Linked DNA regions of Homo sapiens. The protein of the gene in region 3 interacts with the protein of the main gene of each other region in a biochemical or structural test. Each region holds a gene or a part of one and is shown on either strand. Other genes may lie near its edges. The genes, in order: RWDD2B, RNF187, TRIM7 and ATG7.

Evidence for each region.
Region 1: the proteins of TRIM7 (region 3) and RWDD2B interact in a test that uses a peptide from one of them, tested with the Homo sapiens proteins (one study listed by BioGRID).
Region 2: the proteins of TRIM7 (region 3) and RNF187 interact in a test that uses a peptide from one of them, tested with the Homo sapiens proteins (2 studies listed by BioGRID, with this or other methods).
Region 4: of the proteins of TRIM7 (region 3) and ATG7, one has a biochemical effect on the other in vitro, tested with the Homo sapiens proteins (one study listed by BioGRID).

The regions. Positions count from the first base shown.
Region 1 is NC_000021.9:29,016,333-29,024,094, reverse strand, and holds the start of RWDD2B (RWD domain-containing protein 2B), read left to right. Parts: upstream 1-4,745; 5' UTR 4,746-4,817; coding exon 4,818-4,884; exon of another isoform or gene 4,885-5,182; intron 5,183-5,847; exon of another isoform or gene 5,848-6,509; intron 6,510-7,762.
Region 2 is NC_000001.11:228,483,530-228,490,386, forward strand, and holds the start of RNF187 (E3 ubiquitin-protein ligase RNF187), read left to right. Parts: upstream 1-3,852; 5' UTR 3,853-3,959; coding exon 3,960-4,349; intron 4,350-5,430; coding exon 5,431-5,523; intron 5,524-6,857.
Region 3 is NC_000005.10:181,202,191-181,210,143, reverse strand, and holds the start of TRIM7 (E3 ubiquitin-protein ligase TRIM7), read left to right. Parts: upstream 1-4,947; 5' UTR 4,948-5,033; coding exon 5,034-5,555; intron 5,556-5,803; exon of another isoform or gene 5,804-6,399; intron 6,400-6,503; coding exon 6,504-6,599; coding exon of another isoform or gene 6,600-6,647; exon of another isoform or gene 6,648-7,556; intron 7,557-7,953. UniProt on the Homo sapiens protein: E3 ubiquitin-protein ligase that have both tumor-promoting and tumor-suppressing activities and functions in several biological processes including innate immunity, regulation of ferroptosis as well as cell proliferation and migration.
Region 4 is NC_000003.12:11,267,876-11,275,409, forward strand, and holds the start of ATG7 (ubiquitin-like modifier-activating enzyme ATG7), read left to right. Parts: upstream 1-4,521; 5' UTR 4,522-4,555; exon of another isoform or gene 4,556-4,834; intron 4,835-6,338; exon of another isoform or gene 6,339-7,534. UniProt on the Homo sapiens protein: E1-like activating enzyme involved in the 2 ubiquitin-like systems required for cytoplasm to vacuole transport (Cvt) and autophagy.

The DNA.
Region 1 (7,762 bases), on a different chromosome or scaffold from region 3:
CTGGTCTCCAACTCCTGACCTTGTGATGCGCCCGCCTCGGCCTCCCAACGTGCTGGGATTACAGGCGTGAGCCACCGCGCCCGGCCGCGAGAGTGAATTTTTAAAGCAAAACCGAAAGACGGTGTCAGATAAATTGCGGGGGAGGAGGGGATTTTCAAATATTTACTGTCCATTCTTTGAAAATTTGTAAGTGCGAGCCCTGGCGCGGTGGCTCACCCCTGTAATCCCAACACTGGGAGGCCGAGGCGGGTGGATCACGTGAGGTCAGGAGTTCGAGACCAGCCTGGCCAACGTGGTGAAATCCCGTCTCTACTAAAAATACAAAAAATTAGTCGGTCGTGGTGGCGGGCGCCTGTAATCCCAGCTATTCGGGAGGCTAAGGGGGAGAATCGCTTGAAGTCTGGAGGCAGAGGTTGCAATGAGCCAAGATCACTCCATTGCACTCCAGCCTGGGCAACAAGAGCAAAACTCCCTCTCAAAAAGAAAAAAAGAAAATATGTAAGTGCACACTTTGTGCCAAGCCTTTCCTCAAATGAATTAAACATAGGCCTCTCTGCCCTGGAGTCTTAGTTTAGTAGAGAAGATAGTAATCGCTACCGTGGGGGTCGGGGGAGTTGCAGATAGCTATAGAAAAATAGATATGTAAACAGGTAATTCACCATAAAAGAACAATTGGTCATAAAATAAATGTCCATCCTTACTAATCAGATAAAAGGAGTTTAAGATGGTGGCATACTAACCACCAGAGTAACATTTGGTTAAATTTGGGGGAAAACTAGCTCTCTTGCTTTTTACTGCTGAGATAATTTTTGTTTTATTTACTTATTTATTTATTTATTGAGACCGGGTTGCACTCTGTTACCCAGGCTGGAGTGCAGTGGCACGACCTCAGCTCACTGCAACCTCCACCTCCCGATTCTCCCACCTCACCCTCCCCAGTGGCTGGGATTATAGGCACGTGCCACCCCACCACACAGCTAACTTTTGTATTTTTTTGGTAGAGGCAGGGTTTCAGCATATTGGCCAGGCTGGTCTTGAACTCCTGGCCTCAAGTGATCCACCTGCCTCGGCCTCCCAAAATGCTGGATTACAGGCATAAGCCACCGGACCCGGCTTAGTTTCATCTTTCTCTGTATTCTGACAACATTATGACATTACAGTCCAAGAGATATTGGGCTGGTCCTTGTTTGGTCTCTGGTGATTTAGATGAGGCAGGACTGAGCCCCCACGAATGTATTATCTCAAAAAGTTAGTAGCAGCTACTGTGCAAAGTTCGAAGGCCCAAGTCAAATCCTGGGCATATCCACGGATGTGTGGTAGGGCATAGGCTCCAGCTCTCATGCAAAAAAGAACAGGAGTGGGATGAGATAATTTTTTAAAGCTTTCTTCTCCAAGCTCCAGAAATGCAGGCTTTTTGCCCCCACGCATTTTAAAACAGAGCCTTAGGGTCATTGTACCACGTGCTTCCTGTCAGAAAGCCTCTTCCCCCTGATCTTCCGGGGTTGGTATCTTATTGTCATTCTGTTCACACCTTATTTTTAATTTATTTATTTTAGAGACAGGGTCTGGCTTTGTAGCCCAGGCTGAAGTGCAGTCATAGTTCACTGTAACCTTGAATTCCTGTGCTCAAGTGATCCTCATGCCTCAGCCTCGCGTAGCTGGTACTGCAAGTGTGTGCCACCTCATCAGCTAACTTTTTTTTTTTTTTTTTGAAGTCACCGTGTCTCTACAAAAGCCTGCTGCCCAGGCTGGTCTCAAACTCCTGACCTCAAGCGATACTCCAGCCTCAGCCTCCCAAAGCACTAGGATTCCAGGTGTGAGTCACCACACCCAGCTTCTATACATGCCTTAAAAGTCACTTCCTTCCAGTTACAGGGCAATCTAAGTAACACAGTCATCTGATCACTCACATCACCTTACTTTACTTCTCTGCCCAGCAGTTTATCCACTATCTGGTAATTTTCTTTCTTTTTTTTTTTTTTTTGAGACAGAGTCTCACTCTGTTGCCCAGGCTGGAGTGCAGTGGTGCAGTTACAGCTCACTGCAGCCTCAACTTCCCAGGCTCAGGCAATTCTCCTACCTCAGCCTCCTGAGTAGCTGGGACTACAGGCCTACAGGCACACGCCCCCACACCTGGCTAATTTTTGTGTTTTTTGTAGAGTTAGGGGTCTCTGTTGCCCAAGCTGGTCTCAAACCCTGGGCTCAAGTGATCCTCCTTGGTCTCCCAAAGTGCTGGGATTATAGGCATGAGCTATCATACCCAGCCATAATTTTTTTTTTTTTTCTTTTTTTTGAGACGCAGTTTTGCTCTTGTTGCCCAGACTGGAGTGCAATGGCGTGATCTCGGCTCACCACAACCTCCGCCTCCCAGGTTCAAGCAATTCTCCTGCCTCAGCCTCCCCAGTAGCTAGGATTACAGGCATGCACCACCATGTCCAGCTAATTTTTGTATTTTTAGTAGAGACGGGGTTTCTTCATGTTGGTCAGGCTGGTTTTGAATTCCCAACCTCAGGTAATCTGCCCGCCTTGGCCTCCCAAAGTGCTGGGATTACAGGCATGAGCCACTGTGCCCGGCCCATAATTTTCTTTTATTTTTACCTTTATGTTTAGCCCTCTTCATACATACACAGAAATGTGCAAATATAAGCTCTTTGAGAGATGCGACATCTTTGTCTTGTTCATGGCTATAATTAGTACCTGGAAATGCCTGGAATATAGTAAGTGCTCGATAAATATTTATTGAAAAGAAAGTCATGAGCAATAAAATGCTATATAAGAACGTTCACAGCAGCTTTATTTATAATAGCCAAAAAACTGAAGACAGCCCAGGTTTCTATCAAAACAAGAATGGAACTGGTATATTCATATGATGGAATACTACTGAGCAATCAAAAGAAAGTGATACACATGATATCAGATGAAAATATTACCCTGAGTGAAAGAACCCTTACACAAAAATATCTATTGCATGACTCCAACCATATGACGTTCTATAACAAGAAAAATAAGTATGGTGGGGGAAAAAATCAGAACAGTGGTTACCTTTGGGGAGAACTGGTTGGGAACTAAGAAAGGGCATGAAAGAACTTTCTAGGGTGATGGTAACGTTCTATATGTTAATATGGCTTGAGTTCCATAGGCGTGTGCATTTAAAAACTGATGTGTATTTAAGGTATGCATTTCATTTTTACCTTAAAAAATCCTTAATTTGAACTCCAATGATGTGCATTAGAGGTACTTAGAAGCGTACTGTCTGCAGTTTACTTTTAAATGTATGAAAACAGATAGATTGATGAGGTATGTGACAAAGCTGGTAGAGTAAAATTCTGTACTCTCCAGGTCAGTGTTTTTCAACCTCAACACTATCAACATTTTGGACCAGCAAATTTGTTGTTGTCGGGGGATGTCCTGTTCATTGTAGGAAGTTGAGGAACATCCCTGTGCTCTACCTACCCCATGCCAATACCATCCTTCCAGTTGTGACAACCCAAAATGTCTTCAGACACTGCTAAATAGAGGGGAAATCCATCCTTCCCCTTCTCTTGAGGTCTGCTCCACTGTAAAATTCTCTCGACTTCGCTTTACACTTGAATTTTTTCATAATAAATGTTGGAGGAAAAAATAAATTATGACATTGAAAAACGCTCATGAAACACTATGCAGAAGACGTAGTTTATGAAGACCTACAATACATACTGTCGTATTTTTGTTTAAAAAAAAAAAGTGGAGGGGAGACCTAGCAGTGATATTTAGTATTGCTAAATGTCAATGTTTACAAATCTTATCTATGACATTTCTAAAATGAATATTATAAAGTGTATTGCATATAGTTGGATTGGGAAGAAAAACATTTCTAATTATTCTCCTGTCAGCATCTCCTTCAAACTACCCTTTTATTAACAGGGATAGATATGCATTCACACGGTTCCTCCCAGCTTGGTTAATGGGCAAGAACACCTAAGATAGCCAAGGCCACCATGCATCCAGGCTCACATCTCCCTAATTGCCCTCCTCCATGATTCAGGGACAAGGAGGATCACCATCGTGTGGGAAGATACTAGAAATGTAGAATTTGGAACCCCACCCCTACCTACGGAATCCTGATCTGCACTTCAACAGGATCCCCGAACTATTCCTAGGCGCGTTCGAATTTGAGGAACATTAACGGACCAATTCTTTGTCCCTGAAAAGTGCCCGTTATAGAGGCGGCCGCTGGGAAATGACAACGGGGTTGGCATGGAGAGGTATTAAGTAGAAAAACTCCGGCCGGGCACGGTGGCTCAGGCCTGTAATCCCAGCACTGTGGGAGGCCGAGGCCGGTGGATCACCTGAGGTCAGGAGTTCGAGACCAGCCTGGCCAACATGGTGAAACCCCATTTCTACTGAAAAATACAAAAATTATCTGGGCATGGTGGTGGGCGCCTGTAATCCCAGCTACTCGGGAGGCTGAGGCAGGAGAATCGCTTGAACCCAGGAGGCGGAGGCTGCAGTGAGCCGAGATCGCGCCACTGCACTCCAGCTTGAGAGACACAGCGAGACTCCGTCTCAAAAAAAAAAAAAAGGAAGAAAGAAAGAAGAAGAAGAGAACTCTGCGACTGAAAAGTACCTAGCAGGGACAACGCATTCCCTACGTCCTTCCAAGTGCAGACACCAACACCGGCGGACGCGGCTCCCAACAGGCGAGCCCCAGCTTCCGGTCCGCGGCCTTGGACGCGCATGCGCCGCATGCTTTTTTTTTTTTTTTCCGGTAGGTCGCCAGCTGAGGCGGTTTGTAAGTTTTGGGTCGCAGTATGCTAGAATTTTGAGGCTCCCTTCTGATGAAAATTGAGCTGTCCATGCAGCCATGGAACCCGGGTTACAGCAGTGAGGGGGCCACGGCTCAAGGTGAGTCTCGCCTCAGCTAGCGCCAGTGGTGACCGCCACGGGGGTTTCCCACGCTGCAGCGCCCAGTGCAACCCTTTGGGAACGTGCCCGGCATGGCGGCCCCGGTTCCCCTCACTGCATGCGCCCATCGGTCGGCTCGGTCCTCGGCGTTGCTTCCCGGCTTCTGCAGCCCTGCTCCAGCCGGGGACCTCGCCCCGGGGGCAATCAGGGTGCGAGGGCGGCTGCGTGCTGGGCTTTCTTCCTGAGAGCGTCTTGGCTTGGGTCGCGGGGTACCCTGCTCTGTTCTTCAAAAAAAAATCTGCAAGGAAAAGATATTATTCCACTCAGAAATCTCAAGTTTCAGTCTGCGTTCTCTTAAATATATTTTATTTTTTAAAAAAATAATAAAGGCGAGCTCTTACTATGTTACCCAGGCTGATCTTGAACTCCTGGGCTCAAGCAGTCCCCCTTCCTCTGCCTCCCAAAGTGCTGGGATTACAGGCGTGAGCAATCGCGCCCGGCCACAGTCTATTATCTTACAGCATTCGCTGAAATCTTGAATCATAAAATTATCTTGAGGGTTTTTTGGAAGGACTGAAATCTCTTAAGCGAAAATAATTTGGCAGATAAATGACCTGTGACATCACTCCCGTAGTTGTCCGTTCAAGAGTCCCTCCGTCCCGTTCTTCTTTGCTAATCCCATTTCATCTTCGATACCTCCAATTCAATAGCACCCTCTCCCAACTTTACTCACTCCCTGGGAGACTTTAAACAAATATATAGTTCCAAATAAGTGTTGACTCCCAAGATTATATATCTAGCTGAGTCTCTCGTAGACTTCAAAACTATACATCTAACTGCCTGCTAGACCTCTCTATTTAACAGGTGTCTTAGTAGGCACTTCATTACTTGTGTCTAAAACCAAGCTTCAGCTCCCCATGACCATCAACGTCTAAATAAATGGCAGATCCATACTTTCAGTACCTTAAAGCCCCGGAGTCATTCTTCCGTGTCTCATGTAATTCATCTGTAAATCCTGTTGCCTCTGTTCTCTGCATGTATCCAGAACCTGAAGCTCACCAACTTGACCACTATAATCCTATCAAAGCCACCATCATCTCTCCCTAGTTATTGCGGTGTCTATATCTGGTCACCCCACTTTTCCTTTCACTTTTCTCCATAGCAGCAAGTGTGGGGATCTTCATAAGTCAAACCTCTCTTGTAGCTCTTACATGTCAGTCGGGATAAAATTCAAAATTCTGGCCATGCTTTACTAGTCCCAACATAAACTGCCCCACATTTCCTTACTAAACTCTTCTATTCCCCGTGTCCTCAGCTCACTGTGCTCTGGCCAGCTGTTCTAGCACCCTCCTTCCTCAAGGCCTTTGAATATGCTGTTCGCTTTCCCTTGAACACTCTTGGCCAAGAAAAACACATGGCCTCCTTTTTCAGTTCCTTAAAGTCTCTTCCCTACAGTCACCTTAGGAGAAAGGCCTTTCCTGACAATGCTGTGTGCAGTCTCACCCCTGCTGCCTCATTGTTTCCCTTATCCTTGTTTTCTTTTTCAGGTTTCTTCATAGCAGTTATTCACTGGGTACAAAAATTCTTTTTTGTTTTTTTTTGAGACAGTCTTGCTCTGTTGCTCTGGCTGGAGTGCAGAGGTATGATCTTAGCTCACTGCAACCTCCGCCTCCCCAGTTCAAGCGATTCTCCTGCCTCAGCCTCCCTAGTAGCTGGGACTACAGGCGTGGGCGACCACACCTGGCTAATTTTTGTATTTTTAGTAGAGATGGGGTTTCATCATGTTGGCCAGGCTGGTCTCAAACTCCTGACCTTAGGTGATCCGCCCACCTCATCCTCCCAAAGTGCTGGGATTACAGGCGTGAGCCACCACCGCACCTGGGCTGGGCGTATAAATTTGTTTTTGATGTCATGGTATCCTCCCACCAGTAGAGTTGTTTTATTACTTTCATTCATTGTTATCTTAGTGCCAGTGCTTGAACGTAAGTGCTTGAGAAACATTTGTTGAAATGATGACCAATAATAATAATAGTAATAAGCAGCCGGACACGGTGGCTCATGCCTGTAATCCCAGCACTTTGGGAGCCCAGGGCGGGTGGATCATGACGGCAGGAGTTCGAGACCAGCCTGGCCAACGTGGTGAAACCCCGTCTCTACTAAAAAACCCAGAAAGCAGAGGTTGTAGTGAGCCGACTCTGCACTCTGGCCTGGGTGACAGAGCTAGACCCTGTCTCAAAAAAAAAGGTTTTTTTAATTAATAATAATAGTAGCAAGCACGCATATAAAATTTACTGTTGCCAGGCACTTTCCACAAATTCTCATCTAATCATCACAGCAACCCTCTCATCCCAGTTATGGAGTTGGGGAGACTAAAGCACAGATAAATTAAGCCACTTGCCTAAGGTCCTGCAGTTGGTAAGTGGCAGAGCCAGGAGTCGCACCTTGGCAATCTGGTAATAGAATCCAAAAACACTGGTAACAGAGCCACGCCAACAAAAAAACAAAGTAAACCATTTCCTCTAATAACCACCCAAGTAGTTGTTTTTTATGTTTCTCAACTCCAAAACAGACCAGCAAATATGTATATGGAATTCCAATAAGTCCAGGGATTTTAAGTATGTATGAGGATTTTGTTTAAAAAAAAAAAGGCCGGGAGCAGTGGCTCATGCCTGTAATCCCAGCACTCTGGGAGGCCAAGGCGGGTGAATCACCTGAGGTCGGGAGTTTGAGACTAGCCCAACTGACATGGTGTAACTCCATCTCTACTAAATACAAAAAATTAGCTGGGTGTGGTGGCGCATGCCTGTAATCCTAGCTACTTGGGAGGCTGAGGCAGGAGAATCGCTTGAACCTGGGAGGTGGAGATTGCAGTGAGCCG
Region 2 (6,857 bases), on a different chromosome or scaffold from region 3:
GTGTTGGCCAGGATGGTCTCCATCTCCTGGCCTTGTGATCTGCCAGCCTCGGCCTCCCAAAGTGCTGGGATTACAGGCGTGAGCCACCGCGACCAGCCTTTTGCAATTTTTCATCAAAATTTGAGAGGACCAAGGGTTCCCCTTGGCACCTACACCAGCCACCCTGTCTTGGGAAGTGGGGATGCTGGCACCACACAATGTGGATTCTGCTGGTGGTAAGGGAGAGAGGCTTTCAGGCAACAATCTTTGCCAGTGTATACTTCCAAAAGTCTCTAATGCACACATGTGCAAGTTCATGGCTGCTACCATTTGCTAAGCCATGCCCCTAGTATTGGACCTTCAAGGTTTTTTTTTTTTTCTCCAAAATGAATAGTGATATGACATACATTTCTCTTTCTTTCTTCTCTTTCTTCCTCTCCCTTCCTCCCTCCCTCCCTTCCTTTCTCTCTTTCTTTCCTTCCTTCTTTTTCTCCTTCCTTCCTTCCTTTTCTTTCTTTCCTTCCTTTCTTCTTTTTCTTTTCCCTTTCTTCCTTCCTTCCTCTCTCCCTCCACTCCTTCCTTCTCTCCCCCACCCCCCGCCCCCACCTCTCTCTCTCTCTCTCTCTCTCTTTCTTTTTTTTAAGACAAGGTCTTAAAAAATTCTCTCATTTCCCAGGCTGGAGTGCAGTGGCATGATCACGGCTCACTACAGGCTCAATCTCCTGTGCTCGGGTGATCCTCCCACCTCAGCCTCCCAAGTAGTTGGGTCCACAGGTGCGTGCCACCACGCCCAGCTAAATTTTAAAAATTTTCTGTACAGACAGGTTCTTGCCATGTTCCCCAGGCTGGTGTTGAACTACTGGGCTCAAGCTATCCACTCACCTCAGCCTCCCAAAGTGCTGGGATTAACAGGCATGAGCCACCTCTCCCAGCCACATTTCTAAACAAAACAAAACAGCCCAATTTTTTACAACCCAATTTTTATTATTTTCATTTCCTGTTATTTTTATAGTTTGTTTTCTAAGAAAAGGAATTCCAATCAGAAAATCCTTAATCGATACTGCTACGTGGATTACAAGAAGCAGTATTCACAGAATCAAGTGTTTTTTTTGTTTGTTTGTTTTCTGTTTTTTGTTTTTTTGAAATGGAGTTTCACTCTGTTGCCCAGGCTGGAGTGCAGTGGTGTGATCTCGGCTCACTGCAACCTCCACCGCCCAGGTTCAAGCGATTCTCCTGCCTCAGCCACCCAAATAGCTGGGATTACAGGCACGTGCCACCATGCCTGGCTAATTTTTGTATTTTTTTTTTTTTTTTGAAACTGAGGGAGTCTTGCTCTGTCGCCAGGTTGGAGTGTAGTGGCATGATCTCGGCTCACTGCAACCTTCGTCTCCCGGTTCCAGCTATTCTCCTGCCTCAGCCTCTCAAGTAGCTGGGACCACAGGCGTGCACCACCATGCCCAACTAATTTTTGTATTTTTAGTAGAGACGGGGTTTCACCATGTTGGCCAGGATGGTCTCGATCTCTTGATCTTGTGATCCACCTGCCTCAGCCTCCCAAAGTGCTGGGATTACAGGCGTGTGCCACCACATCCAGCCTAATTTTTGTATTTTTAGTAGAGATAGGGTTTCACTATGTTGGCCAGGCTGGTCTTGAACTCCTGACCTCAGATGATTCACCCGCCTCGGCCTCCCAAAGTGCTGTGTTTACAGGCCTGAGCCACGGCTCCCGGCCAAGTTTCCTTTTTTTTGTTTGGTCTGCTTACTTAATAGTGGAAAGAAAGAGAGTCTCGTTTTATTTTCCTCTTTCTTAACTGGGCAGAGTGTACATTTTTTTCTCATGTGTGTTCAATCATTTGTGTGCTTTTTTTTTTGTGATTTGAAAAATCCCATGACAAGGTGTATTTTCCATCATGCTTTTCCTTACCTAATTTTATAAACTCTTTGTATATTTGTGGTTACAATGTTCCTAATTTGGCTATTTGCCTTTAATTATAATTTTTGATATTTTCTCATTCACAAGATTAGTTCATTATGAAGTTTGCTCATTTTTTATATTTTTTACTTTTCTCTCCAGCAAGTTCCTAGTTGACTCAACAATATCAGCAAGGCTCGGCTGGAAGCCTCTAATCTTTACTACACAGAAATAACCTCGGTTTACTATTCATGTTTCCCACGGGCATCTAGTGCATTTCCAAGTCGATTTAAAAAATCTTCACAAAGACAAAAATACCTCATTAGATCCTGCGCTTGCTTGGAATACAGATTTATAAAAATTTTTTTTTGTTTTTGTTTTTTAAGACAGAGTCTCGCTCTGTCGCCAGGCTAGAGTGCAGTGGCACGATCTTGGCTCACCGCAACCTCCGACTCCCTGGTTCAAGTGATTCTCCTGCCTCAGCCTCCTGAGTAGCTGGGATTACAGGCATGCGCCACCACGCCCGGCTAATTTGTGTATTTTTAGTAGAGACGGGGTTTCACCATGAGCCAGGATGGTCTCATATCTTGACCTTGTGATCCGCTCGCCTCGGCCTCGCAAAGTGCTGGGATTAGAGACGTGAGCCACGGCGCCCGGCCCAGATTAATTTTTTAAAATGCAAAACTTGCACAATCTTATTTTAACCATGCTTGCTTGTTTTCAAAATAATTAAAAAACAAAAACACAAGATTGCTCTTCCCAAAGGCTTATTTCTTTCCTTTAAATTTATTTTTTAAAGAAAAGCTAACGGCCGGGTGTAGTGGCTCACGCCTGTAATCCCAGCACTTTGGGAGGCAGAGGCGGGTGGATTACGAGGTCAGGAGTTCGAGGCCAGCCTGGCCAACATGGTGAAACCCCGTCTGTACTAAAAATACAAAAATTAGCCGGGCGTCGTGGCAGGCGCCTGCAATACCGGCTACTCGGGGGGCTGAGGCAGGAGAATCGCTTGAACCCGGGACGCGGAGGTTGCAGTGAGCCGAGATCGCGCCACTGCACTCAAGCCTGCCTGGCAACAGAGCGAGGCTGTCTCAAAAAAGAAAGAAAAGCAAAGCAAAGCTAACAAATGCTCTTCTGTCATGCATCATCACAGAATCAATGAGAGCTCCCCCCAGCCAGGAGACAGCGGACAACCAGGGTAGCTTCCCAGGGGGCCAGAGGGAGGCTGCGCGAGAAGAGGCTCAGCGGGATGGGTCCACGCAGGGAGATCCCACGCAGGGTGGGCGTATACGAGTGTCCACGTCCGGAGGGCCGTTCAAGGGCGGGTCCCTGAAGGAAGGGTGCACGCAGGGCACGTCCACGCGGGCAGGCCCGTGCACGCAGGGCGTGCCCATGCAGGGCGGGTCCGTGCAGGATGAGAGCAGCGGAGGAGGCCCACGCAGGCCATTTCCCGCCCCGTCCCCAGCCCACGCGGGCGAGCTACCGCGGGGGTACGCGCAGCTCAGATCCTAGCAGCTTACAAAAACAACCTTTTAAAAATGGAACCTTCAAGTAAAAATAAAACTTTGTTTCCCTCTTTCGCAGGAGTTACTGAAGTAGGAAGGGACAGCCCAGTAAGATTTCAGGATACGACTTGGGCCGGTCCGCAGGCAGTAGAGTGAAGCGCGCAGCTGCCAGGACTTGCGCGGTGACGTGCGCCGCTGCCAGGACCTTGCAGGTGGAGAGCATAGTTGCCAAAATCAAGGCGGAGGAGCGCACCGCCGCTAGGATCCAGGCGGAGAAGCCCACCGCGGCCAGGACCTAAGGATGCAGTACACTGCTGCCAGGATCTTGTCTGTGGAGCGCAGCGCGGCCAGGACCTCCGGCTGCAGCACACCGCTGCCAGGATCTTATCGGCAGAGCGCTCCGCGGTCCGGACCCCGCCCCGTGCGCGTCCCCGACCCCGCCCCGTGCGCGTCCCCGGCGTTGGCGTCTTCGTCCTGTTGCTGGTCTCCGTCCGGTCGCCGGCCGTCTAGGTCTCCGGCCCTCCCCAGCCGCTCCTGCGCCCTTGCCGGCCCCGCCGCCCGCAGCCCTGGCGCTCCCTGCGGGCCCCGCCGAGGCCGCCTGCGCCCTGTGCCAGCGCGCGCCCCGGGAACCGGTGCGCGCCGACTGCGGCCACCGCTTCTGTCGGGCGTGCGTGGTGCGCTTCTGGGCCGAGGAGGACGGGCCCTTCCCGTGCCCCGAGTGCGCCGACGACTGCTGGCAGCGCGCCGTGGAGCCCGGCAGGCCCCCGCTCAGCCGCCGCCTTCTGGCGCTCGAGGAGGCGGCCGCGGCGCCCGCGCGCGACGGCCCGGCCAGCGAGGCCGCGCTGCAGCTGCTGTGCCGCGCCGACGCCGGCCCGCTCTGCGCCGCCTGCCGTATGGCTGCGGGCCCCGAGCCGCCCGAGTGGGAACCGCGCTGGAGGAAGGCGCTGCGCGGCAAGGTGCGCGCCGCGGGGTCCCGTGCCCCACCCCGGACGGTGCCCTGCGCCTCTCCGCCCCCGCCCCGGTCCCCCTGAGCCCTGGGCCCTTCCCGTCTCCACTGTTCCTGTCCCCGGATTGTCCCCGTCCCCGGATTGTCCCCCTCCCCTCACCGCCACGGGTCCCCTCTCCAGCGTGTGCTGGGCCCCTCCCTCCTGCGGCTTGCCTCCCCATATTTCCTGCGTCTCTTCGGAGTCTGGTCCCCTTCCCCGTCTTGGTGTCCCCTGCTGGGCGGTGCCTTATCTCCCCACCCCCTACCTTCTACGAAGTCCTTCCCCCACCAGCGCCCATCTTTGTGGTCCCATCACTAGCTGTGCCCTGTCTCGCCCTCATAGACCCCCTCTAGTTCCTACAGATTGACTCCTCCACTCACTCTTCCCTTGGGGGAGACATCACGCCTCTTGCCCCTCTGTATTCCACTGTGTCCACAGGCCTGGCCCACCTTCTCGTCTGCTCCCCGGGCCACCCAGCCCTCGCCTGCACCCCCTGTCCCCTCTCCCATCTTTCAGAAACCCGCTCTGAGAGTCTGGCAGCAGCGGGTCCGGGAGTCTGGAGCCTTGCCCATGGCGGGTTGGTTGTGGGACACAGAATAGGAGACAACAGCCAGCCTGGGGTCCTGCTCTTCAATACAGGGGAGGGGAAGCCAGCCAGACTGTGTCCCTGGGTGCTCCTCCTGCATTGGGGGTCCTGCCACCGGGCAGAGCGACCCCCATCCGGCTCAGGCAGGGCAGGGTGTAGGGCAGGCTGTGCAGACCTTTGGTACAGGCCGAACTCACACTGAACAGGGCCACTTACAGACACAGAACTCCTAAACCCACCTAGACAGTCCCCTTAGCCCCAGCACCCAGATCCTTCTGAATAGGTGTGAAGCCCAAGAAACCTTTTGACTGCCTGTGCGTTCCTGCCCTAGACAACCGGGCTTCGAGGTTATCTCTGGGATGGTCAGACTGTGTGCAGTCAGCTGGGGTGATGTCCCTCAGTACTGGGCTGGGTTGGGGGACCCAGAGCTTCTGCCCACCCCTGGTGACCTTCTTTTCTTTACAGGAGAACAAGGGGTCTGTGGAAATCATGAGAAAGGACTTGAATGACGCCCGGGACCTGCATGGCCAGGCAGAGTCAGCAGCTGCAGTGTGGAAGGCAAGTGGGGGGACCTGGGGCAGCCTGGAATGAGGGGACTGTGGGCTCAGGGCTCTAGACAAAGGGACCACCAGGCCAAGTGGGCCAGGCCTCTGAACTGCTCAGCTGGTTGGTTGGAGGAGGGGCCTCTGGACTTAAGTGAGCTTCAGGGTATTTTTTTTAGGATGTGTTTGTATTTCTCAAATAGAATCTAGCCAAAGCCAGTGGAAGCCTCTTTTTCTCCTCACATTTTACCTGTAGGTGATGGCAGCATCAGACTTCTTTTTTTTTTCCCAAGAGACAGAGTCTCACTTCATTACCCAGGCTGAAGTGCAATGGCATGATTGTAGCTCACTGCAGCTCGAACTGGCCTCAGGCGATCCTCCCACCTCAGCCTCTGGGACTATAGGCACGTGCTACCACACCTGGTTAATTTTAAAATGCTTTTCTAGAGGTGGGGGTCTTGCTGTGTTGCCCAGGCTGGTCTCAAACTCCTGACCTTAAGCGGTTCTCCCGCCTTGGCCTCCCAAAGTGCTATTTTTTTTTTCTTTTTTAGAACACATCTGTAATTTTCTGTGGTCCTCTTGTTCTGATCTGAGAGTTGCTCATTATTTTTTAGAGGCTAGAAGTCCAAGATGAAGGAACTGGCAGATTCCCTGTCTGGTGAGGGCGTTTCCTGGTTCATAGATGGTGTCTTCTCACTGTGTCCTCACATGGTGGAAGAAGTGAGGGTGTCTCTGGGGCCTTTGTGTAAGGACACTGATTCCGTTCTTGAGAGTTCCACCCTCACAACCTCATCACCTCCCAAGGGTCCTGCCTCCTAACGCCATCACCTGAGGGATGAGGATTTCAGCATGGGGATTTGGGGAGGACACAGACATTCAGACCAGAGCAGCGTTACTTTCCTTGGGTGCCTTCCACAGTATTATATCCCAAGGGGACATCCCATAGATTCTTTTAGGTTACTCACCAGTAAAGCTCTTTAGTCGTTTAAACTCTATTTGGTGACTTTTTCCTCGTGTAGTAAAAACCTGTGTGCCATTTTCTCTGCGTTTCATAAATTCCTATCTCCTTCTTTTAACCTGAAAGACAGAGTGCTTTTCACAGGTGCAGCAGCTCTTGGGTAACTGGCTGCATCTCGAGGCTGAGGCCCACGTTTTTACCCCAGCTTGAGGCTGAGGTGGGCTCTGTGCTCCTGGTGCTGCCAAGCCCTTGCCTGCTATCCACAGGCCTGAGGTGCAGGCCTCCCTCAGACAGTGACGGGTTACACATGGGGTCCCTGATGCCACTCAGACCCCTGGCACTCCACACTGCCCTTGGGGCTGCTCTGAACTTCTCCTTGCCTTGTGAGTGGT
Region 3 (7,953 bases):
ATACAATTAGCCAGGCGTGGTGGCAGGCACCTATAGTCCCAGCTACTCGGGAGGCTGAGGCAGAGAATCGCTTCAACCCGGGAGGTGGAGGTTGCAGTGAGTCAAGATCTCGCCACTGCACTCCAGTCTGGGCGACAGATCAAGAGACTCTGTTCCCCCTCCTTACCCAGCCCCCCCCCCAAAAAAAACTACTTGCATCAAAATTTCTGGAAGAATATGTACAAAAATATAAAATTGAAATTTTAAGGGGGAGTTAAACACTTTTCACTGAATTCTGTTTTATATTTTAATGTTCTTTAATTTTTATTTTAAAGATGAGGGTCTGGCTAGGTTGCTCCCGAACCCTTGGCCTCAAGCAATCCTCCTAAAAGTGCTGGGATTTACAGGCATGAGCCACCGCGCTCAGCCGAAAGATTTTTGTTTTTGGGTTTTTTTGTTGTTGTTGAGACGGAGTCTCGCTCTGTCTCCCAGGCTGGAGTGCAGTGGCGCCATCTCTGCTCACTGCAAGCTCCGCCTCCCGGGTTCACGCCATTCTCCTGCCTCAGCCTCCCGAGTAGCTGGGACTACAGGCGCCCGCCACCACGCCCGGCTATATTTTTGTGTGTTTTTAGTAGAGACGGGGTTTCACTGTGTTAGCCAGGATGGTCTCGATTTCCTGACCTCGTGATCCACCCGCCTCAGCCTCCCAAAGTGCTGGGATTACAGGCGTGAGCCACCGCGCCCGGCTTTTTTTTTTTTTTGAGACGGAATCTCGCTCTGTCCGCCAGGCTGGAGTGCAGTGGCGCCATCTCAGCTCACTACAACCTCTGCCTCCTGGGTTCAAGTGATTCTCCTGCCTCAGACTCCCGAGTAGCTGCGATTATAGGCGTCCACCACAAGGCCCGTTTGTATTTTTTAATTTTTTTTTTTTAGACGGAATCTTGCTCTGTCGCCCAGGCTGGAGTGCAGTGACGCAATCGCGTCTCACTGCAACCTCCGCCTCCCGAGTAGCCGGGATTACAGGCGCGTGCCACCACGCCCGGCTAATGTTTGTATTTTTAGTAGAGACAGGGTTTCACCATATTGGTCAGGCTAATCTCGAACTCCTGACCTCAGGCGATCCACCCGCCTCGGCCTCCCAAAGTGCTGAGATTACAGGCGTGAGCCACTGGGCCCGGCCGAAAGATGTTTTTTTTAAATTTAATTTAATTTTTGAGACGGAGTCTCTCTCTGTCGCCCAGGCTGGAGTGCAGTGGTGCGATCTTGGCTCACTGCAAGTTCCGCCTCCCGGGTTCACGCCATTCTCCTGCCTCAGCCTCCTGAGTAGCTGGGACTATAGGCGCCCGCCACCCCCGGCTAATTTTTTGTATTTTTTTTTCAGTAGAAACGGGGTTTCACCGTGTTAGCCAGGATGGTCTCGATCTCATGACCTCGTGATCCGCCCGCCTCGGCCTCCCAAAGTGCTGGGATTACAGGCGTGAGCCACCGCGCCAGGTCGAAAGATGTTTTTTAAAGCTCATTTGTGATGTAGCCTCTGTGGAAAATGGTATGACACTTCCGCAAAAACAGAAATGCCGTATGACCTAGTAATTTCACTTTGTGATGTATACTCTAAAAAAATAGAAAGCCTAAACTCAAACAGATATCTGTACACTCATGTTCATAGCTGCATTATCCACGGTAGCCAAAAGGAGGAAGGAACCAAGTGTCCATTGGCAGATGAATGGATAATGTGGTATATATGTGCAATGGAATGCTAATCAGCTTTAAAAGGAAGGAAATTTTGACACATGCTACAATAAGGATGAATCTTGAAGACATTAAGTGAAATAAGACAATTTAAAAAGGAAATATAAGGATGAATCTTGAAGACATTAAGTGAAATAAGACAATTTAAAAAGGAAATATTGCACGATTCATCTTATATGAGGTATCTAGAGGAGTCAAATTCAAAGACACAGAAAGTAGAATGGTGGTTGCCAGCGTCTGTGGGCAGAGGGGAATGGAGAGTTAATGCTGAATGGGTTCAGAGTTTCATCTGGGAAACAGGAAAAAGGACTGGAGACTGATGCACAACCATTTAAATGTATTTAATGCTACAGAACTGTACAGTTAAAAAGTGTTAAATTTTGTTGGGCATATTTTACCACAGCTTTAAATCCTAATTGTATCGCAAGATAATGGGTAGATAATGAACAGTGGAGCGCCCGCAAGAGTATTACACACACAGAAATGCAAGACTTCAGAGCAGATTATTTTCCTAAGAGCTGGTCTACTTATAATATATTTTTAGGTATGGCTAGTAGTCGTAGATTTAGGACTAAAACGACCAGTTGCCGCCCAACGTGGGGCTCGAACCCACGACCCTGAGATTAAGAGTCTCATGCTCTACCGACTGAGCTAGCCGGGCGCCCGATGACCGTATCTCAACAATTTTTCATTCTAGATCAGAGTCGGAGTGTATTCAACTGCGGGTTTGAACTTGGATTTATTTGGAGTGTGATAAAACTACTAAAGTGCCTCGGCTCCTGGGAAATTCAAACTCTGCCGTCAGTGCCTGACCGTCCCTCCCACTTACGTCCGTTTCCTGCCCCTTCTACCCTACCAGCGACCAAGCCATTTTCTACCCGCGATGAAGCTCACGGCACGGAGATGGAGAAACGTGCACCCTGACGCCACTGGAGCTCTCACCGTGTGGATTTTTTTTTTTTTTTTTTTTTTGACAGAGAAGACTCTCAAAAAATGGGCCTACCTTTCACCACGAACTGCGGCTCTGTCGCCCAGGCTGGAGTGTCGTGGCGCAATCTCGGTTCACTGCAACCTCTGCCTCCTGGATTCAAGCACTTCTCCTGCCTCAGCCTCCTGAGTAGCTGGGATTACAGGCGTGTGCCACCACTCCCGGCTAATTTTTGTATTTTTAGTAGAGACGGGGCTTCTCCATGTTAGTCAGGCTGGCCTCAAACTCCTGACCTCGTGATCCACCCGCCTCGGCCTCCCAAAGTGCTGGGATTACAGACGTGAGCTACCTCACCCGGTCAAGTACCGTGTGGATTTTAAAACAGGAGGGAAAGACAATGGGGCCCAGAGGAGGGCAGGGGCCGCCGCGGTCTTTTTCTACTCCGCAGACTCCACCCTCTGGGTTTTTTCTTGGAGCTCTTCAAACATGCTGGATTTCAAAATTTGAAAGGAAAATCGAAAACAATAATTGAATGTGCAAAACTACACTGGAGATGCCGGGGATCGAACCCGGGGCCTCATACATGCAAAGCATGCGCTCTACCACTGAGCTACATCCCCACCTACTCTCAGCAGCTCTCCCAGATGGTCCCTATTGGTCGCTTAACTCAGGACACCGGGAGTGGAAGGCAACCGGTACGCGCTGGGTCTCAGCCGCTGCAAAAACCCGGCATCGCAGGGCAAGAGTTGTTCCAGCGTCCTCCGCTGACTCCAAACCAGCGGGTCTTGACCAAGGGATTCCAAGAGAGAGGATTAGGCCCGGCTAAGCACCTGGGAGCAGCTGTGGAAAAAGGAGAGACAATCATCAGGCACGATGCCAAAAATGAACTGTGACCTGAAAAAGAGAAGAAAGGAAAATTGTGCAGGATGCTACGTTTTGTTTTTTAAAAGTGGGGGTTGAGGCAATAAAATACGGAATATTTGATTAACGTAATCCAGAATTGTAAAGTTGATTGCTCGGGAGGAAGAAAGGACTGGGACACAGGCGATGGGCCTACTTTCCACCGTGAACTGCGGCTCCTCTTTTGAATTTCGAACCAAGTTTAATCCAAGAAAACCTTACTGAGCTTGCCAAGAACTGCTCTAAAAACAGGATTCAGCCGTGAACAAACCTAGTACAGTCCATCTGAAAGCTGACATTCCAGAGGAGATAGAGTGCGGGCACAGAGCCGGCCCTGAGAAGGGAGCGCGCTAAGAGACGACTTTACACAGTGTGCGCGTTCGGGGCGGGCTTCGTGGGCAGAGACGTTTGAAACAAGACCTGAATGAGGTGGGAGGGAGCATGCAGGTGGTGGGAGAAAAGAGGTCCACGCAAGGGGAACAGCCAGCGCAGAGGCCACGGGGTTCAGGAACAGCAAGAAGATCGGGGACACTGGGTCCTGGAAGGCCCTGAGAAGGGAAGTCGGGAAGGAGGGAGCATCCGGGGGCAGATGAGGTGAGGCGAGGTCTTCGCCTTTGGGTGAGAATTGCTGAAGTTCCCGGTGACATTGGCAAGGGCGGTTTCTGAGGAGGGTGCGGGCGAAAGCTTGATCCAAGTGGCCTCCAGAGTGAGCGAGGAGAGAGGGTGTGGAAGCGGATAACACAGGCAGCTCTGCTGCGGGGCTGTGGAGACAGCTGGGGGACAAGAGAGCGCTGAGGTTTGTGTGTGTGTGTGTGTGTGTGTGTGTGTGTGCGGTGGGGGGGGAATAATACTGAATACAATGGGAAATTATAAATGTGTTATCTGTTCAAATACTAAGTAAAGAGTAAAGAAGCCGGAGGACAGTCGCAGAAAAGGTAATGGAATGGATACAAGGCCACGCTTGCGCGTGAGGGGACAGGACCAGGTTCCAGTCTCTAAATTTAACTCAGCACAGGGCCGGGGCGAACCTGCGCTGGCGGAACCTGACACCGTGGCCCGAGCGCCAGGCCCTTGCCCCGGCGATGCTGGGTCGGCCTCGGTCGGAAACCGGGAGTGGCGCTGGCAGCATTTGTGCGCCCACCTGTCGCGGCCCGTTTCCCGCGGCTGACTGGGTCAGGCTGGGGCGGCCTGGAGAGTCTGAGGGACGGGGGCGAGGGGGAGAGGCCGCTGGCCAGGGCGGGGGCTGGTGGAGCGCAGATCCGGGGCGCAGGGCGCTGTCCCGCACTTGAATGGCCCGTAGTCAACGTGCGCCTCCCCTCCCGGCTCCCAGCCGGGCGCGCCCCGGGCTCGAGTCTCTGCCTGCCCAGTGGCAGCCCCGCCCTTCCTCTCCCAGTGGGCCCTCGGCGCCCAGCTCCGCGTCCTGTGAGGTCCAGTGGCCGCCCAGGCGCGACCAGATCTGGGTGCGCGGAGAGCGCGCATGGCGGCTGTGGGACCGCGGACCGGCCCCGGAACCGGCGCCGAGGCTCTAGCGCTGGCGGCAGAGCTGCAGGGCGAGGCGACGTGCTCCATCTGCCTAGAGCTCTTTCGTGAGCCGGTGTCCGTCGAGTGCGGCCACAGCTTCTGCCGCGCCTGCATAGGGCGCTGCTGGGAGCGCCCGGGCGCGGGGTCTGTTGGGGCCGCCACCCGCGCGCCCCCCTTCCCACTGCCCTGTCCGCAGTGCCGCGAGCCCGCGCGCCCCAGTCAGCTGCGGCCCAACCGGCAGCTGGCGGCAGTGGCCACGCTCCTGCGGCGCTTCAGCCTGCCCGCGGCTGCCCCGGGAGAGCACGGGTCTCAGGCGGCCGCGGCCCGGGCAGCGGCTGCCCGCTGCGGGCAGCATGGCGAACCCTTCAAGCTCTACTGCCAGGACGACGGACGCGCCATCTGCGTGGTGTGCGACCGCGCCCGCGAGCACCGCGAGCACGCCGTGCTGCCGCTGGACGAGGCGGTGCAGGAGGCCAAGGTGAGCGCAGCCCCCACCCACCCCGTGGGTCCCCGGGACCCCCTGACTTGGTCCCGCGCTCCCGCGCACGGGGTGCAGAGAACAGCCTGTCGATCAGGAGGCCCGGGTGAGCCCCTCCCTTCTTTCTCCATTCCAGGAAGCCCAGCGCTGGTTCCCGGGCTGAGCGCGGTTCTCTGTCACCCCCAACATCACCAATACCCCCACCCCACCCCCACTGCGTTTCCCTCTGGGCCAGATACTGGGCCGCCTGCGCGACGTCCCCCACGGACTTGGCGATGTTCTTCCTGTCTGTTCGGAGCCTCTAGCCTGGTCTGCGTCTCCGCAGCTCTCTGCCCGCGGGAAGTCTCCGGCACAGCCACGCAGCCGCTGCCCCCACTCTTATCTCTTTCCCCGAAGCGGGCTCTGCTCAAAGTCCCCACCTCGTGGAACTGAGTGAGAGGACCTCGCCAAGATGTCCAGGGAGGGGGCTCCCGGGTTAAGCCGCGCACCTAGAGCCGTCTGACTGTGCCAACGCTGTCGATTCTGGGGGCCCTTTCTTTGCTATTTTCTCGCTGAGCCTCAGCGAGGGTGTGTGCAGGGGTGAGGGCGGGGCGGGGAGGCTCGGGCGGCAGTCCCCAGTCTCTCCTTGCTGGCCCATCCTGCTCCAACTCTCCCAGCCACGGGGCTTCCTGGTGGGGGGGCGGAGAGTAGAGGAGACGACTAGGGGTAGGGCTGCCGGAGCTTGTGTTTCAGTCTGGCTGGTCCAGCAGATGCTTTTGGGGAAGCAAGATCCCGAGACCTTCAGAGTCACCTCGCAGTGTAACCTGTAGCCTGTAGAGATGACTTCTACCCGGCCTCCCCCTCAGTGAGCAGGGCCTTCCCTTTCTCCTGGCTGGCTCCAGGAAGGCAGAGGTGGGGGTTTCCAGAAGCCCCTCACCCCCACCTTACATTGTTTCCCTTCATCTACAGGAGCTCTTGGAGTCCAGGCTGAGGGTCTTGAAGAAGGAACTGGAGGACTGTGAGGTGTTCCGGTCCACGGAAAAGAAGGAGAGCAAGGAGCTGCTGGTGAGCCAGGCACCCGCAGGCCCCCCGTGGGACATTACAGAGGCCTGAGAACTCAGCACCAGGGCTCGGTGTGTGTGGTGTTGGAGTGTGTGCTATGGAACCGCAGAATCGATTTCAGAAAGATAATAGAGTCCATATTATATAGGGTGTCCACATAATTGTTGTACAAACCAGAGCTTTTTAAAGTGAAAAGCAGTGCTAAAATAATTATTGCAAAACAACTGGCTTAAACTGGAGCTGTCCCAGCGAATCAGGACGCTCAGTCACTCTGATATTACGTAACATACCAGTTAGGGCCTGCGGAAGCATCTTGTAATGGAACACATTACTATTTCTGCAGAGAAACATGGATATTCAATAAGTGGGAATATTAATACAATAAAGAGCCTCATGGCATGTTTTGTCAACAAAACAGTAGTGAAAAAAATTTCATGTTCACAGTGTTTTTATTTGAAATCGAGGCTAACGGAGAAGGGGCTAGAGGGCGTCAGAGCTGCTCCCTGGCTCTGGCAGAGGGAGGAAGTTTAGGGTCTTGGGTTTACAGTAGCCCCTGCTGCACAGCCCAGGGTCTTGGGTACTGGCACCTGCCTCTACCCCAAGTTGGAATGATATTTTATCTTCCTTAGGGTAGAACAGGAAAGTGAAACGAGGGCTCATTTTGGTTAAGATAAGCAAACATGAGGCCTGGCAGGGTGGCTCACGCCTGTAATCCCAGCACTTTGGGAGGCCGAGGTGGGCGGATCACGAGGTCAGGAGATCAAGACCGTCCTGGCAAACACGGTGAAACCCCTGTCTCTACTAAAAATACAAAATAGCCGGGCGTGGTGGCGGGCGCCTGTAGTCCCAGCTACTCCGGAGGCTGAGGCAGGAGAATGGTGTGAACCCGGGAGGCAGAGCTTGCAGTGAGCCGAGATCGCGCCACTGCACTCCAGCCTGGGAGACAGAGCGAGACTCCACCTTAAAAAAAAAAAAAAAGATAAGCAAACATGAATCACCATCGGTCATTTTCTACCTTGCAAATTCAGTTCCTAGCTCAGTAAATAGGTGTTGAAAGAATAAAAGGATTGGCTGGGTGCGGTGGCTTACGCCCGTAATCCCAGCACTTTGGGAGGTCGAGGTGGGCGGATCACCTGAGGTTGGGAATTCCAGACCAGCCTGACCAACATGGAGCAACCCCATCTCTACTTAAAATACAAAATTAGCCTGCCGTGGTGGCACATGCCTGTAATCCCAGCTACTCGGGAGGCTGAGGCAGGAGAATCACTTGAACCCGGGAGGTAGAGGTTGCGGTCAGCCAAGATCATGCCACTGCACTCCAGCCTGGGCAACGAGAGTGAAACTCCATCTCAAAAAA
Region 4 (7,534 bases), on a different chromosome or scaffold from region 3:
GCAGGCTCAGGCACGAGAATCACTTGAACCCAGGAGATGGAGGTTGCAGTAAGCCGAGATCGCGCTACTGCACTCCAGCCTGGGTGACAGAGTGAGACTCTGTCTCTCTCTCTCTCTCTCTCTCTCTCTCTCACACACACACACACACACACACACACACACACAAAAGAAAAAAAAAAGAAAAGAAAAGGGGTCCTGATCCAGACCCCAAGAGAGACTTCTTGGACCTCACACAAGAAAGAATTCTGGGACAGTCCATAAAGAGAAAGAAGGTTTATTAAGAAAGCAAAGGAGGCTGGGTGTGGTGGCTCACGCCTGGAACCCCAGCACTTTGGGAGGCCGAGGCGGGCGGGCCACCAGATGTCAGGAGTTCAAGATCAGCCTGGCCAACATAGTGAAACCCTGTCTCTACTAAAATATAAAAAAGTAACTGGGCTTGGTGGCTTGTGCCTGTAGTCCCAGCTACTCGGGAGGCTGAGGCAGGGGAATCGCTTGAACCCAAGAGGCGGAGGTTGCAGTGAGCCGAGATCACGCCACTGCACTCCAGCCCAGTGACAGAGCAAGACTCTGTCTTGGAAAAAAAAAAAAAAAAGAAAGAAACCCCATTTGTATTAAAAAAAAAATACAAAAATTAGCCAGGCATGGTGGTGTGTTCTTGTAATCCCAGCTTCTAGGGAGGCTGAGGCAGGAGAATTGCTCACCATATTCTAGGAAGGCTGAGGCAGGAGAATTGCTTGAAACCAGGAGGCAGAGGTTGCAGTGAGCAGAGATGCGCCATTGCATTCCAGCCTGGGCAACAGAGTGAGACTCCATCTCAAAAAAAAAAAAAAAGAAAAAAGAAAAAAAGGGAGTAAAAGAATGGCTACTCCATAGGCAGTGTGTGGTGGCATGGGCTGCTCAATTGATTATGCTAATAGTTACTTCTTGATTATATGCTAAACAAGGGGTGGATTATTCATGAGTTTTCTGGGAAAGGGGTGGGCAATTCCTGGGACTGAGGGTTCCTCCCCTTTTCAGACTGCATAAGGCAACTTTCTGACATTGCCTTGGCATCTGTAAAAGGTCATGGCAATGGTGGGAGTGTCTTTTAGCATGCTAATGCATTATAATTAGCGTATAATAAGCAATGAGGATGACCAGAGGTCACTCTCGTCACCATTTTGGTTTTGGTGGGTTTTGGCACGTTTCTTTAGCACAACCTTTATCAGCAAGGTCTTTGTGACCTCTGTCATACCCTGATCTCCAGTTTTATCCTGTGAGTAAGAATGCCCAACCTCCTGGGAATGCAGCCCAATAGGTCTCAGCCTTACTTTACTCAGCCCCTATTCAAGATGGAGTCATTCTGGTTCAAATGCCTCTGACAGTAAAGGTTAAGAAATCCTTCTTGGCCAGGTGCAGTGGCTCACGCCTGTAATCGCAGCGCTTTGGGAAGCCGAGGTGAGCAGATCACCTGAGGTCAGGAGTTTGAGATCAGGCGGGCTAACATGGTAAAACTCCGTTTCTACTAAAAATACAAAAAATTAGCCGGGTGTGGTGGCATGCACCTGTAATCCCAGCTACTTGGGAGGCTGAGGCAGAAGAATCGCTTGAACCCGGGCGGTGGAGGTTGCAGTGAGCCAAGATTGCGCCATTGCACTCCAGCTTGGGCAACAAGAGTGAAACTCCATCTCAAAAAAATAAATAAATAAAAAAAAAAGGCTGGGCGTGGTGGCTCACACCTGTAATCTCAGCACTTTGGGAGGCTGAGGCGGGTGGATCATGAGGTCAGGAGATCGAGTCCATCCTGGCTAACATGGTGAAACCCTGTCTCTACTAAAAATACAAAAAATTAGCCGGGCGAGGTGGTGGGCGCCTATAGTCCCAGCTACTTGGGAGGCTGAGGCAGGAGAATGTCATGGACCTGGGAGGCGGAGCTTGCAGTGAGCCAAGATTGTGCCACTGCACTCCAGCCTGGGTGACAGAGCGAGACTCCGTCTCAAAAAAAAAAAAAAAAAGGAAAAAGAAATCCTTGCTGGGCAAGGTGGCTCACACTTGTATTCCCAGCACTTTGTGAGGTGAAGGTGGGAGGATCACTTGAGTCCAGTAGTTCAAGACCAGCCCTGGCAACATAGCAAGACCCAGTCTCTACAAAAAATGAGAAAATTAGCCCGGCATGATGGCATGCACCTGTAGTCCCAGCTACTCAGGAGGCTGAGGTGGGAGGATCCCTGGAGCTCAGGAGGTTGAGTCTGCAGTGAGCTATGATCACTCCACTGTACTCTATCCTGGGTAACAGAGGGAGACCCCGTCTCAAAAAAAAAAAAAAAAAAAGATAAAGCAAAAAAGAGAAATCTTTCTTAACCTTTTTGTGCTTCAGAAAATGTTCACTACAAAGAAATACCCATTCTCATGTCACTTAAATGACTCCTGGTTGCCTCCCTTGTTTACTGTGGCAAGGTCAAACACAGTCCTTCTGAATTCCCATTCTTTGCCTCATAAATGATTACAGAGCTGCTTGTCTCCATTGACCAGTTGGAAAAAATGCTTATTAACCAAACTTGGGTTAAGCTTCTTTCCTTTCCCCAGGCTCCTTACTTTAACCTACTCTCAGCTTGAACTAGCATACTGTCTCATGTGTCCGTGTGAAGAGACTACCAAACAGGCTTTGTGTGAGCAACAAGGCTGTTTATTTCACCTGGGTGCAGGTGGGCTGAGTCCAAAAAGAGAGTCAGCAAAGGGTGGTGGGATTATCATTGGTTCTTATAGGTTTTGGGATAGGCGGTGGAGTTAAAAGCAATGTTTTGGGGGTAGGGGGTGGATCTCACAAAGTACATTCTCAAGGGTGGTGAGAATTACAAAGAAACTTCTTAAGGGTGGGGGAGACTATAAAAGAACCTTCTTAAGGGTGGGGGAGATTACAAAGTACATTGATCAGTTAGGGTGGGGCAGAAACAAATCACAATGGTGGAATGTCATCAGTTAAGGCTATTTTCACTTCTGCGGATCTTCAGTTGCTGCAAGCCATCTGGATGTATACGTGCAGGTCACTGGGGATATGATGGCTTAGCTTGGGCTCAGAGACTGACACACACAACCCCTACTGAGAATAGGTTGGCCTCAAGATAAAACATTCTCTAATCTACTATCTGATCAAGCCACCCCTTCATCCCACTTCCCATATTCGGTTGTTTCCAGCCTTGTTTACCTGCCTTTGGGGAGGGTGGGGGGTGGGGGAACCCTCTTTTTCCCTAACCATTGAAACATCTGCGGATGTTTTGGTCAGAGTGATCTCACTATTGCAATAGTCTCCCTCTGCTATTGCACGGTTCCTTCTCTCCCACCTCTCTCACTTCTTGCAGTAATCCTTTCTTTTTTTTTTTTTTTGAGACGGAGTCTCGCTCTGTCGCCCAGGCTGGAGTGCAGTGGTGGGATCTCGGCTCACTGCAAGCTCCGCCTCCCGGGTTCACGCCATTCTCCTGCCTCAGCCTCCCAAGTAGCTGGGACTACAGGCGCCCGCCACCACGCCCGGCTAATTTTTTTGTATTTTTAGTAGAGACGGGGTTTCACCGTTTTAGCCGGGATGGTCTCGATCTCCTGACCTCGTGATCCGCCCGCCTCGGCCTCCCAAAGTGCTGTGATTACAGGCGTGAGCCACCGCGCCGGGCCTGCAGTAATCCTTTCTAATAAGTATCCTTATTAGTCTGGATTTGTTTTCTTATTTGCCAGAATCAAACAAACTTCAGATTACGTTCCTGGCCCAAAAGCCCTTTAACTTTCAGCAAGCCACCTAACTTTTCTTAGATTCTGTTCTTTCATATATAACTTGGGGATATGTTTCAGGACTCTTGTGAGGATTAGAGATGTAAAACCCTGAAAACATGGTGGCTAGTTAATTAATAGCAGTCATCGCTCTTGTTGTTATGAGTCTAGAGTGGTATATCAGAGTTAATTTGTGAAAGGCCTTACAGGCCAGACAGAGAAACTTGTCATAATCACTGCTGTATCTTCAACACCTGTCCAGTGCTTTGCACGCGCAGAGTATCTAACCAAGTATTGAGAGGGAATAACTTTATCTCACTGACAGTGAGGAGCTGTGAGAATGATGGCTGGTTTAGAAAAGGCAGGTTGGTCACTGTCGACGTTCACTGGCCTTTTCCTACTAAAATTCTCATCTCCTGGCTCTCCACACCTGCCACCCTGATGGCCCCTGTGCTGCGTTTGATGCCGCCTCTCCTGGAGAATGACCATGGTGATCATTCCTGTCATCCTCTGAAATCAAAAGAGAGAACGTGGGCACTTTCTTAAAAGCCTGAAGGGAATGTAGACATTCCGACATCTGGTAAGGGAGACGCTCTCCATCGCTTCCCCCGGGGGCGTCACCGCCCCCTGATGCCCCGCCCTCCTCACGACTCAAGTTCCTCCCACTTAGCTCGGTGCTAGGGGCGCATTTCCCCGGCATGCCTCTGCTCCTTTGCGCACGCGCGCCGCTTCCCAGTGGCAAGCGCGGGCAGGACCGCGTTGCGTCATCGGGGCGCGCGCCTCAGAGAGAGCTGTGGTTGCCGGAAGTTGAGCGGCGGTAAGTGAGCCGCGGCGGGCGAGGGTGTAGTGGGGTCTTGCTGGGCCGGTTTTGGAGGCCTGGAGTCAAGGGGCGAGCTCGCCAGGGAGGGCGAGGGTCACAGCAAGTCTCAGGATCCTCCTCTGCCAGTTTCTGGGTGGTCCTTCCTCCTCCAGGGACTCACTGATTCCGGCTGGCGCCCTTCGTCTGTAGCCGCGTCCCCTCAGACTGGTTCAGTCCGGGGTCTTCTGACTTGGAAGCTCGTGCTGATTTCCTAAGTCAGCCCCTCCTGTCCTCTTGGTAGGCAGTGCTCAGAATCTTCAGTGTTGGAACACGGGAGATGGGACATTTGGATTCCCAGCCTGGCTGTGTCTGGATTTGCTGTCTCTGGCACGTTCCTTCCCCATCTAAGCTGCTTTTCCATCTGCAAAATGGGAATGATAATCCGCCATTTGTTTAAGTGAGGAGGTTAAATAAGTTTACTTTCTGAGAAAGAAGATTCTCGATTCCTTGGTTACAGGGTTAGAAACTAATGCACAATAAGAATCAATCCGGTAAGGTAAATATAGGTGTTAGAACATTTGTCAGAAATAGAGTCAAACTTCTAATTTTATAAGTACAGTACTAACGTACATGATGTTGGAGAAGTACAAGCCAAACCGTGTGTGTGTGCACGTGCGTGCAGTTTCCTGATTTTTAAACACTGGCGACTGATGCCATTTTTTAAAAATTGGCAAGTAATTCTGGCGTTTAAAAACATTGGCAACTCAGTTTTTACAAAACCCTGTTCAACTGTAACCAGTCATATCTGTGGCTGTCAGTTTGGGACCTCTGGATCCCAGACTCCCTTTTTCATTGACTACTTAGATTTTTTTCTCTGACACCTCTGCCCACTGGCCAGATTTCTTCAGTGACAGAAAGCTTTCTACTTCTGGTTGCTCCTGTTTGGTCCTCCCCCAGTTCTGACTCTTAGGTTGAGCTGAAAGCAGCTACTCGGTAATCTTAGCTCACTGTTCCTCCTTCAGGCTCTTGGAATCACCCCTGCATTTAATTGCCCTATACATCATTGAAAGCTGCTAGTTTGTCTTCCTCTTCTCACCTTTTCTTCTCTAGGCTAAGCATATTTAATGTATTTGCTCATAGTAAACTTAACAGTGACAGCAAATTTTGTCATGTTTTGTTATATCCCCAGCATATAGAGCAATGCCTAGCATATTATATATGCTCAATAAATATTTGTTGGATGAATGAATAAAACAAATATTTGCCTGTTATGTGCCTGGCATTATTGTGGGCACTGGTGATCTATCAGTAAAATAAGAAGAAAAAGAACCCTGTTTCATGGCACCTTCTAATAATAGTGGTGGTGGTGGCGGTGGCGGCATTGTCAGTAAGGGTTGGTAGGTGTTTCCGATTCTGAAACGTACAGGGTCATGGGATGGACAGTAATTGGGGGGAAGCATAAAAGCTAGCTAGTCAGGGATGGCTTCCCTGAGGAAGTGACCTAACACTTGAATAAAGAAAAGTCCAGTCTTGGAATGGCTCATGTTGCTAAACTGCTTTCCCATCCCCCAACGCTGCTCCAGTCTTGTTAAGCTGCTTGCAGGTGTGTGTCACCTATAGCCCTTTGCTTCTGCTGCTTCGAACATCTCCCCTTCCTCTTCCATTTATCTTGGCCAACTCCTTCCTGCCCTCATGTGACATGATTTTGAAATCCTTTAAGAGCTGAGTACTGGACTTTCCATTACTCAACCACAGGTTCCGTTTTTCGTTCCCAGCCAGCATCTCATTATAGAGAATAAACATTTATTGAGCTTCAGCTGTGTGTCTGGCACTGCGCTGCAAGCTGGGAATACAAAAATGAGTAAGATACACATCCCTGTCCTCAAAGAGTTTACTTTTTTTTTAAGCCAAGGAGATAGCAACGGTATGGCATGAAGCTATTGCGGAGGTTTGGTAGAGGAGGACTTAGGGTACGCATAAGTCAGGCTGACTCATCAGAGAAGGTTTCAGTGAGGAGGTGCTGCTTTAGCCAAGACCTGAAGGACGAACGAGATCTGACAGGTGAAGAGTGGTTCGAAGTGAGATGAGCAAAGGGCTAGAGGTGAGAATGCATGGCCTGCTTGTGGTTCACTGGAGTGCCAGTGTGGAGGTGTAGGATGAGAGGTGACTGGAAAGGTAAGCACTAGCCACATCGTGAAGGGCCCTGTGGACAATAGCATGTTACCCGCACATAGACTTTGGGATCCAAGATAGCTGCGTACCAATATTCCCATTGCCACTGAACTAGTTTTGTGACCCTGGGCAAGTCACTTCTTTCTAAGCTTCAGTTTCCTCATCTCTAAGAAGGGGAAATAAAAACTGTACGAGGTGATATGTTACTCACTTGACACTGGTAGATGATAAATACTCAATAAACAGTAGTCATTAATATTGCCAGGCCCAGAAGTTTGGACTCTAAAATGTGGGGGCGGGGGTGGAGAGCAGGACACTGAAGATTTTAAAACAGATGCGACATCCTCTCATCTGTTTTAAATTACCCAGGCAGCAATGTGGTGATTACACTGGACAGAAAAAGACAAGCAGGGGACCAGTTGGGTATAGTTGCAGTGATCCAGGTGACAGGATGAAGATCTGGATGAAGGCAGTGACAGTGGAGATGGAGAGGAGTGGGAGGAGTTGAGAGATTAAGGAGGTGGAATTTGCTGGACTTGGTAACTGATAGGATGAAACAGAAGAAGGGGACAAGAATCAGGATCCTGATGACGGGAGGGCAGAAATGAATTTGCTGTGTGGAATTGAGCAGTAACAAAATTCTTTGACTAGTGTCTCTAATAGATTAACCCTGACCTCTGATTTTATTTGGAATTCAGTTTGCCTCTGTCGTCCACTTCTACCCATGGAAATGACGTTCGCTAATGTCTTCCTCTCCTCTTTTTTTTTTTTTCTTTTTTTTTGAGATGGAGTCTCACTCTGTCGCCCAGGCTGGAGTGCAGTGGC